Homo sapiens: one gene and its partner. The protein of the gene in region 1 purifies or fractionates together with the protein of each later gene. This does not show direct contact. Each region holds a gene or a part of one and is shown on either strand. Other genes may lie near its edges. The genes, in order: EIF2S3B and ZNF326.

Region 1 (4,542 bases):
ATTCATTCATATATACCCAGAAGAAGGAGATGAGCCATCCTCTCACTTTCATTTATTACCCTCTTCCTTAAAACGAATATATCCATATACATATATATGAAGATATATATATATATATATATATATATATATATATATATATATATATGTTGGTAAGAATGTGAAGAAATTGGAACCCTAGCACATTGTTGATAAGAATGCACTATGAAAAAGGTGTATAGAGCTTCCTCAAAAATTAAGAGTAAAACTACCCATATAACCCAATAATATCACTTCTGGGTATACAGTATATCCAAAAGAATTAAAATTAGTATCTTGAAGAGATATCTGCACTCCCACATCAATGGTAGGATTATCAAGAATAAATAATATTTAAACAACCTAAATGTACACTGACAGATGAACAGATAAAGAAAATGTAGTATGTACATATGATGGAATATTCTTCAGCCTTAAAGAAAGAATATTCTGCCATTCATGACAACATGAATGACCCTTGAGGACATTAAGCTAAATAAAATAAGCCAGTCACAGAAGAACAAATGCTTTATGATTATACTATATGAGTTATCTAAAGTAGTCAAATTCATAGGAACAGAGAATGGTGGTTACCAGGGACTCACTTTCAATTGGTTAAGTTTCAGTTACGAAAGACGAATAAGTTCTAGAGATATACTGTACCACATAGTACGTATAGTTAGCAACAATACGTTGATCACTTTAAAATCTGCTAGGAGGGTAGATCTCATGTCAAGTGTCTTACTTGCCCTCTGCTCCCAAAATAAAGGTACTCAAGAAAAACTTTGTAGATGATAAACATGCCTACTATCTTCATTGGGTGATGGTATTACGAATGTATGCATATGTCCAAACTCATCAAATTGTATACGTTAAAAATGCACAGTTTTTTTGTATATAAACTATACCTCAATAAAGCTATTGTAATAAATCTCCAATATAGCATCTATTAATGGTCATCACTCCAACATAATTTGAAGAAATGAAAATTATAATATAAACCACGACATAGCTATTTGTTTCGAACAAAAAATAAATATATTAATAATTAATCTTCTTAAAGAAGAAAAATATTTAGTGTAGAATTATTCAGTGTGTTGCTGGTTTTGTGTCTTCTTAGAAATGTAATAGCAGGCTGTATATACAAGATCCATTTTCATATAAATAGATTACAATGGTCCATTAATTTTTTAAGTATTTATCTGTGGTCAACTGAAAATATATTTTCGACCCGCCTCGCATGGGCCCAGGGGGCGGGGGTTTGGGTGGCTGCCCTCAGTATTGCCTGCACAAATATCTACCAAGTCTGCGACGAATAGCTCCAGCAACTTTGCACCGTGTTTTCCAGTAAGCCTACCGACAGGCACTGTGCAGATTCAAGCAGAGAGAAGTCCAAGCACTGAGGCCGCTGCTGCACCGGCCATCCTGAGACCCTAGTCGACCTTCCGGCCTCCGCATCCCCGCCCCGCACTAGGACCCCTGCAGACGATCAGGCGGCAGCCGGGGTGACTTTCTTCCTCTTTTGGCAACATGGCGGGCGGAGAAGCTGGGGTGACTCTGGGGCAGCCGCACCTTTCGCGTCAGGATCTCACCACCTTGGATGTTACCAAGTTGACGCCACTTTCACACGAAGTTATCAGCAGACAAGCCACAATTAATATAGGTACAATTGGTCATGTAGCTCATGGGAAATCCACAGTCGTCAAAGCTATTTCTGGAGTTCACACCGTCAGGTTCAAAAATGAACTAGAAAGAAATATTACAATCAAGCTTGGATATGCTAATGCTAAGATTTATCAACTTGATGACCCAAGTTGCCCTCGGCCAGAATGTTATCGATCTTGTGGGAGCAGTATGCCTGATGAGTTTCCTACAGACATTCCAGGAACCAAAGGGAACTTCAGATTAGTCAGACATGTTTCCTTTGTTGACTGTCCTGGCCACGATATTTTGATGGCTACTATGCTGAACGGTGCAGCAGTGATGGATGCAGCTCTTCTGTTGATAGCTGGTAATGAATCTTGCCCTCAGCCTCAGACATCTGAACACCTGGCTGCTATAGAGATCATGAAACTGAAGCATATTTTGATTCTACAAAATAAAATTGATTTGGTAAAAGAAAGGCAGGCTAAAGAACAATACGAGCAGATCCTTGCGTTTGTCCAAGGTACAGTAGCAGAGGGAGCTCCCATTATTCCAATTTCGGCTCAGCTGAAATACAATATTGAAGTTGTTTGTGAGTACATAGTAAAGAAAATTCCAGTACCCCCAAGAGACTTTACTTCAGAGCCCCGGCTTATTGTTATTAGATCTTTTGATGTCAACAAACCTGGCTGTGAAGTTGATGACCTTAAGGGAGGTGTAGCTGGTGGTAGTATCCTAAAAGGAGTATTAAAGGTGGGCCAGGAGACAGAAGTAAGACCTGGTATTGTTTCCAAAGATAGTGAAGGAAAACTCATGTGTAAATCAATCTTTTCCAAAATTGTTTCACTTTTTGCGGAGCATAATGATCTGCAATATGCTGCTCCAGGCGGTCTTATTGGAGTTGGAACAAAAATTGACCCCACTTTGTGCCGGGCTGACAGAATGGTGGGGCAAATACTTGGTGCAGTCGGAGCTTTACCTGAGATATTCACAGAATTGGAAATTTCCTATTTCCTGCTTAGACGGCTTCTAGGTGTACGCACTGAAGGAGACAAGAAAGCAGCAAAGGTTCAAAAGCTGTCTAAGAATGAAGTGCTCATGGTGAACATAGGATCCCTGTCGACAGGAGGGAGAGTTAGTGCTGTCAAGGCCGATTTGGGCAAAATTGTTTTGACCAATCCAGTGTGCACAGAGGTAGGAGAAAAAATTGCCCTTAGCCGAAGAGTTGAAAAACACTGGCGTTTAATTGGTTGGGGTCAGATAAGAAGAGGAGTGACAATCAAGCCAACAGTAGATGATGACTGAAGAATACCGGTTAAATAATACATTCGGATGGAGCTGGAAGTTGCAATTTCTCTTTAACAACCAAGGGGTTTATTTTCAAAGCGATATTGGGGAATTGATTTCACAGTTTGTTACCTTAGTAGGTAACGGTAAGGTTATTCTCTCTTTTTTTTTTTGGTTATGAAAACTTAGGGACTACAATTAGTATAAAAATTGGCATAATGTTGGATTGAATCTACATTTTGGCAGAAGTTAAGCATTCCCACATAATGTCAAAATTATACATTATGCAGTTTTTTTGTTTGTTTTATTTTGTTTTGTTTTTGAGTCTGGCTTTGTCACCTAGGCTGGCATGTAGTGGCATGATCTGCAATCTCTGCCTCCCAGGTTCAAGCGATTCTCCTGCCTCAGCCCCCCAAGTAGCTGAGATTACAGGTGTGTGCCACCACACGGGGCTAATTTTTGTATTAGTAGAGACGGGGTTTCGGCATGTTGGCCAGGCCAGTCTCTCCTGACCTCAGGGTGATCAGCCCACCTCGGCCTCACAAAGTGCCGGGATTACAGGCGTGAGCCACCTTGCCTAGCCCACATCATGCAGTTTGAAATGAAACTTTGCCACAACCAGCCTTTGCTGTAGCACACACATATATCACTGAAACTGTTCGAAATAAAGTTTTTTTTTGTTTTTCATGATTCGTCTTTGAGTACCTCCAGGCTGAAGGACTGTTGTACCAGTAAAAACTTAAAGGCACAAATTATCCTTGAAGACCTTCTCCCTTTTCTTTGGCCCCATATTTTATGTTGCTTTATCTTTGAAATTTTGCATGAAAAGGATGCAATGAATGGGTTCGAATTGCATGAAAAGGATGCACGAATGGGTTCGAATGAAATTGTCCTTTAGAGCATGATTACTTGTTCCCATGGGCAAATAATTTTCTCCCCTTGCTCTTCCTGGCCTGAAATACGGGAAACTAGAGTCAGAAGTTATCTCCCTCTCCCTGTGATGCCTTGAGATGTTTTTCTGCATTGTTTTATGCCTGAAATCCAATAGTCTTCCTCCATTGGAAAATACTGTTATACCAAATAATTCTAGATGAGTAACAAAGATCCTTCTAGGCCTTCATTTTATGTTTTTTCTTAACTGTTATATGATTGTGACACAGATTATAATATTACTAATTTTTGGATGTTTCAAAAGGTCAATAAGTAAAAGATGTTAGAAAGCAAAAAAAAAAAAAAAAAAAAAAAAGAAAATATATTTTCTATCATGTTCTTCTGATAAAGTAATTCAAACTTTAACCAGCCCTGAAGACGGCATTGTGATTATACATCCCTGGGTTCTCCTGCTGACCTAAAGTAATATTAATCTCCATATATAACATTAAAATATATTCCCTTATTAGCTTAAGGGAATAAATGTGAATAATCAAATTTTTTCTTTTGTTAGTGTAGGGCAAATTAAAATTTTTCTGCTTTTTAAAGTTATGAAACCATAGACTCATAGAAAAAAAATTCTTCATATACAGGATTTAAGTATAAAAACTTGCGTGTACATATGTGTATATAAATTCTTAGAAAAGTTGTTAAAATCTCTTA
Region 2 (3,824 bases), on another chromosome or scaffold:
CTCATCTTTGTGTTTTTCCCTTCAGCATTTAGTGTGAATTTAGTTTAAATGTTAATGGTAAATTATCTCAGGTGATAGATAGGAATATCTTGTGTTTTGTGCAAAGATCCCTGAAGAGAATGGTGTATTTTACTGACAATTTCTTATTGACTCTCTTTTAGGAATGGATCGTGATTATGGCCCTGGATCTTATGGAGGTCTGACATTCAAGGATATTTATCTAAAAATTCTTCTTTTGAGTGCCAGTAAAGGTGAGCATCATATAACTTTTTTCTTTTTAAACTCTTATAGGGATGGATCGTGACTATGGCCATGGATCCTATGGGGGTCAGAGATCCATGGATTCCTACCTAAACCAGTCATATGGCATGGACAATCACAGTGGTGGTGGTGGGGGTAGCAGGTAAATTGCTTAATCATTTGGCCAAATAATTAGACAACTATAAGATTTTGGATATATTATTTTAAGTACTCTTTAGGCATGTTATGATACTTGAACTTCACTGTTTGCTATTGAATCATCACCTTAAATATTTAAAGGTGTTAATTAATGGGTATAAAATTTAAATCAGTATTACTGGCAGACGTTATTTTAGGAAAACACCAGATAACTATATCATGTCAATATAATAGAGTAAGATACACTTTTTAGCAGTGAACTTTTAAAAAATTCTTTTACTTTTAACTTCTTGTCAATCAAAGTATCCTGAAAAATGATATAAAAATGTTATTGAAAATATTATTTATGAAGCTTTTTCTTAATAATTAAAAAAAATCTTTTCTAATGTGGGGTGCTATGTAAATTAGCAAAGCAGTCTAACTAGAATGGATTTTACTGAACCAGTCTAACATTTACTTTCCAAGAAACATTCAGGACATATTCCTTTAATTCTAATTTTAAAGGAAGAGCATATTGCAATAATAAAAATATTTTTAAAATTATGTTCAGGTTATTTATTGACAGGTACTACTTACACCAAAGCACTTGTGCTCTAGGCTAGAAGCATTGTATTAAAGCCATGAATACTATACCTTTGACTAGTCGAGATTGTATTTATATTTTCCTGTTACTACTGTATAAAGCTTAAACCTACTTAAACAACTACAAGCTTTAAGGTTGACCATATTTCAGGAGAAGGGGTGTCTACTTTTTGAGGCACAAAGGTTCCTGCTGAATATAAGTAAAACTAGTTAGTAGACATGTGAAACAGTCATCCTTCTGCATAAATTGAAGGATCCGGATTCCTTAATGATGGACTGAATGATGCTTACTTTCCTTCTTTCTGCTTCCAGTGTACCACTATGGTTTATAGTAAAGAAAAATTAAGAAAGTGAACAGTTGCAACTATTTTGCTTATGTGATAGATGTTTTGAAAAATGTAGTTGGAAATAGGAATAATTTTTATATGGTTACTAGGATTCAGAAGTAAATCTATTTAGTGATCTGTAAATAATTGAAGTAATGTAACACTTAATGTTTTAATATGTCAGTTATTGCCCTTTTATATTGTGAATGTAATGTGCATAAGCTATATCCGTAGATGTTATTGTTTTATCTCATGTGTAATTGTGGGCCTTTATAAAATTGTGTTGTAAGATATCAAGCAACTTTTGTAATCCATGCTTTGGGTTTGTGAGAAGGAAGATGATTTATTTCTTCTGTTAACTCTCTTAAAACCTCGAGGAGACTGTGTGCTCCCTTTTTTAGGGTAGTTTTATGTGATAATTTCCTGAAGGAAATAATTTTGCAAATAATTGAATATATTATAAGATGTATTCTTTCTCATCTGCCTTGAAAATTCATATGCAGAGGGTATATGTTGGTGATCTTTTATGTTTTATCTGTTTATCCTTCTAGATTTGTTAGATTTTCTAGTCTACAAGTAAAAAGTGATTGAGGATTGATTAATTGACCTTGGCTGAAGTTTGGCAGATTGTTAAATTTTTATAACCAGAGATAATTCCCCAAATTTTGACTCCTACAGACACAATGAAGCAGTTTGTGATATAGATTATTGGGAGTGCAAAAGGATCTCTCTGTGTCACAAATAACCTACATCTAAGTAGACTTCAATTTGTGTCCCTATTGAAAGCCAAAATATTGTAAATGTTTTGTAATTTTTAATATTAGGGATAGATTCAAAAAAGTTTGAATAGTTTGTGAACTTTAGCAAATGACCTTTTCCAAGACTAGGGCTGGGCTTAAATAATGACAGACAAATCTTTTCTTCTTCATAAAATAGAAAAGCTGCTAAGAAGCAGATTTTAAAGCTAAGTTTTACTAAACTCAATTCATATTTATAATCTGACTCAGATAGCTTTCTATCTGGTCTCACGTTGAACTGCCCAGCCCTAATCAAATGTGAACAAAAGTAGAACTGTGCAAACCAGTATGGTATAAATGAATTTTAGTTGATAAATGTCATCTGATAATTTGTCTTTTGAATTGTCTAACATTAGTAAGCTTACTTTTGTTTTTTCCCTCACTGTGCAACTTTTCCAGGTTTGGACCTTATGAGTCTTACGACTCCAGGTCTTCTCTGGGTGGGCGAGATCTGTACAGATCTGGCTATGGTTTTAATGAACCCGAACAAAGCCGCTTCGGAGGTAGTTATGGTGGTCGATTTGAGAGCTCCTACCGGAATAGCCTTGACTCTTTCGGAGGTAGAAACCAGGGCGGGTCTAGCTGGGAAGCACCTTACTCCCGTTCAAAATTGAGGCCTGGGTTTATGGAGGACAGAGGAAGAGAGAATTACTCTTCCTACAGCAGTTTTTCTTCACCCCATATGAAGCCTGCACCTGTAGGCTCTCGGGGGAGAGGAACGCCTGCTTATCCTGAAAGTACGTTTGGAAGCAGAAACTATGATGCTTTTGGAGGACCATCAACAGGCAGAGGCCGAGGCCGAGGAGTAAGTACAACAGAATCTTTTCAGATTCTTTTCACTAGTCACTCTTTTAAACCCTTTCAAGACCATCGTTTTCAACTAGAATAAACACTGTTCATCCCGGTGTATTTTGAAGCAAAAGCTGAGTCATAAACATAATTTTTAGGTTGACTGTAAAAGTTTTTCTAGCACCTCAGAAAATAAGTGGCAGTTTGAGATGATCATAAAGTTGTGCCAAATCTCCCTTTATTAAAAAGGTGAGGCTACTGGTTTGGTCTAAAAGGGGTTAAAAGGAGTTGCATTTTCCTTGTAAACACTAGCAGTTTTGCTGGTGGAATAGTTTGTGGATTATTGTGAAAGGTCACTGAACCCTTTTTGAGTTTTTGAGTAGGTTAAAGGTGCAATGTATGATAAAATGTTTATACTTTGTGGCTAAACTCTAGCAAGTAGAATTTCTTCAAAGCTCCATGTTTCACATTAAACACAGGAGACTAAAAGTTGATGATAGATCAGGATAGCTTAGCCATGTTTATGTGGTGAAGAAGTTGATGTGTATAATAGATTGTACAATGATTTGTGGTCAGTGTAATTTTGCTAACTCACGCTTACAATATGTCCAGTTGCTGGTTGTTTTATTTTCCCTCGTGTTACTAGTTTTACTCTTGAGAAATAATTTCCACCTGTACAGATATGTTTATGGTTTCTTCTTAGGAAGTAATATTTTGTAAATTATTGCTTAAATGAGTAAATATACTAGTCCACAGTTGTTTAAGTTTAGGGTACATAGTGTAAACATTATGCTTTATGTTCTTAGGTCACTTGATTGACATGAAAATTTACCTAGTAAGTGTATGCAGATTGTGGGGTTATTATATAGTTTGATCATTTAAAGAGTATTGTATTTTTGTTATAATGTAAGAATCCTTTTAAGTCAGCTGC

What was found.
Region 2: the proteins of EIF2S3B (region 1) and ZNF326 fractionate together in Homo sapiens (co-fractionation; one large-scale study listed by BioGRID). This does not show direct contact.

What each region holds. Positions count from the first base shown.
Region 1 is NC_000012.12:10,504,355-10,508,896, forward strand, and holds EIF2S3B (eukaryotic translation initiation factor 2 subunit 3B), read left to right. Parts: upstream 1-1,535; 5' UTR 1,536-1,548; coding exon 1,549-2,967; 3' UTR 2,968-4,171; downstream 4,172-4,542. UniProt on the Homo sapiens protein: Member of the eIF2 complex that functions in the early steps of protein synthesis by forming a ternary complex with GTP and initiator tRNA.
Region 2 is NC_000001.11:90,004,842-90,008,665, forward strand, and holds part of ZNF326 (DBIRD complex subunit ZNF326), read left to right. Parts: intron 1-161; coding exon 162-197; exon of another isoform or gene 198-251; intron 252-291; coding exon 292-403; coding exon of another isoform or gene 404-407; exon of another isoform or gene 408-1,604; intron 1,605-2,503; coding exon 2,504-2,909; intron 2,910-3,824. UniProt on the Homo sapiens protein: Core component of the DBIRD complex, a multiprotein complex that acts at the interface between core mRNP particles and RNA polymerase II (RNAPII) and integrates transcript elongation with the regulation of alternative splicing: the DBIRD complex affects local transcript elongation rates and alternative splicing of a large set of exons embedded in (A + T)-rich DNA regions.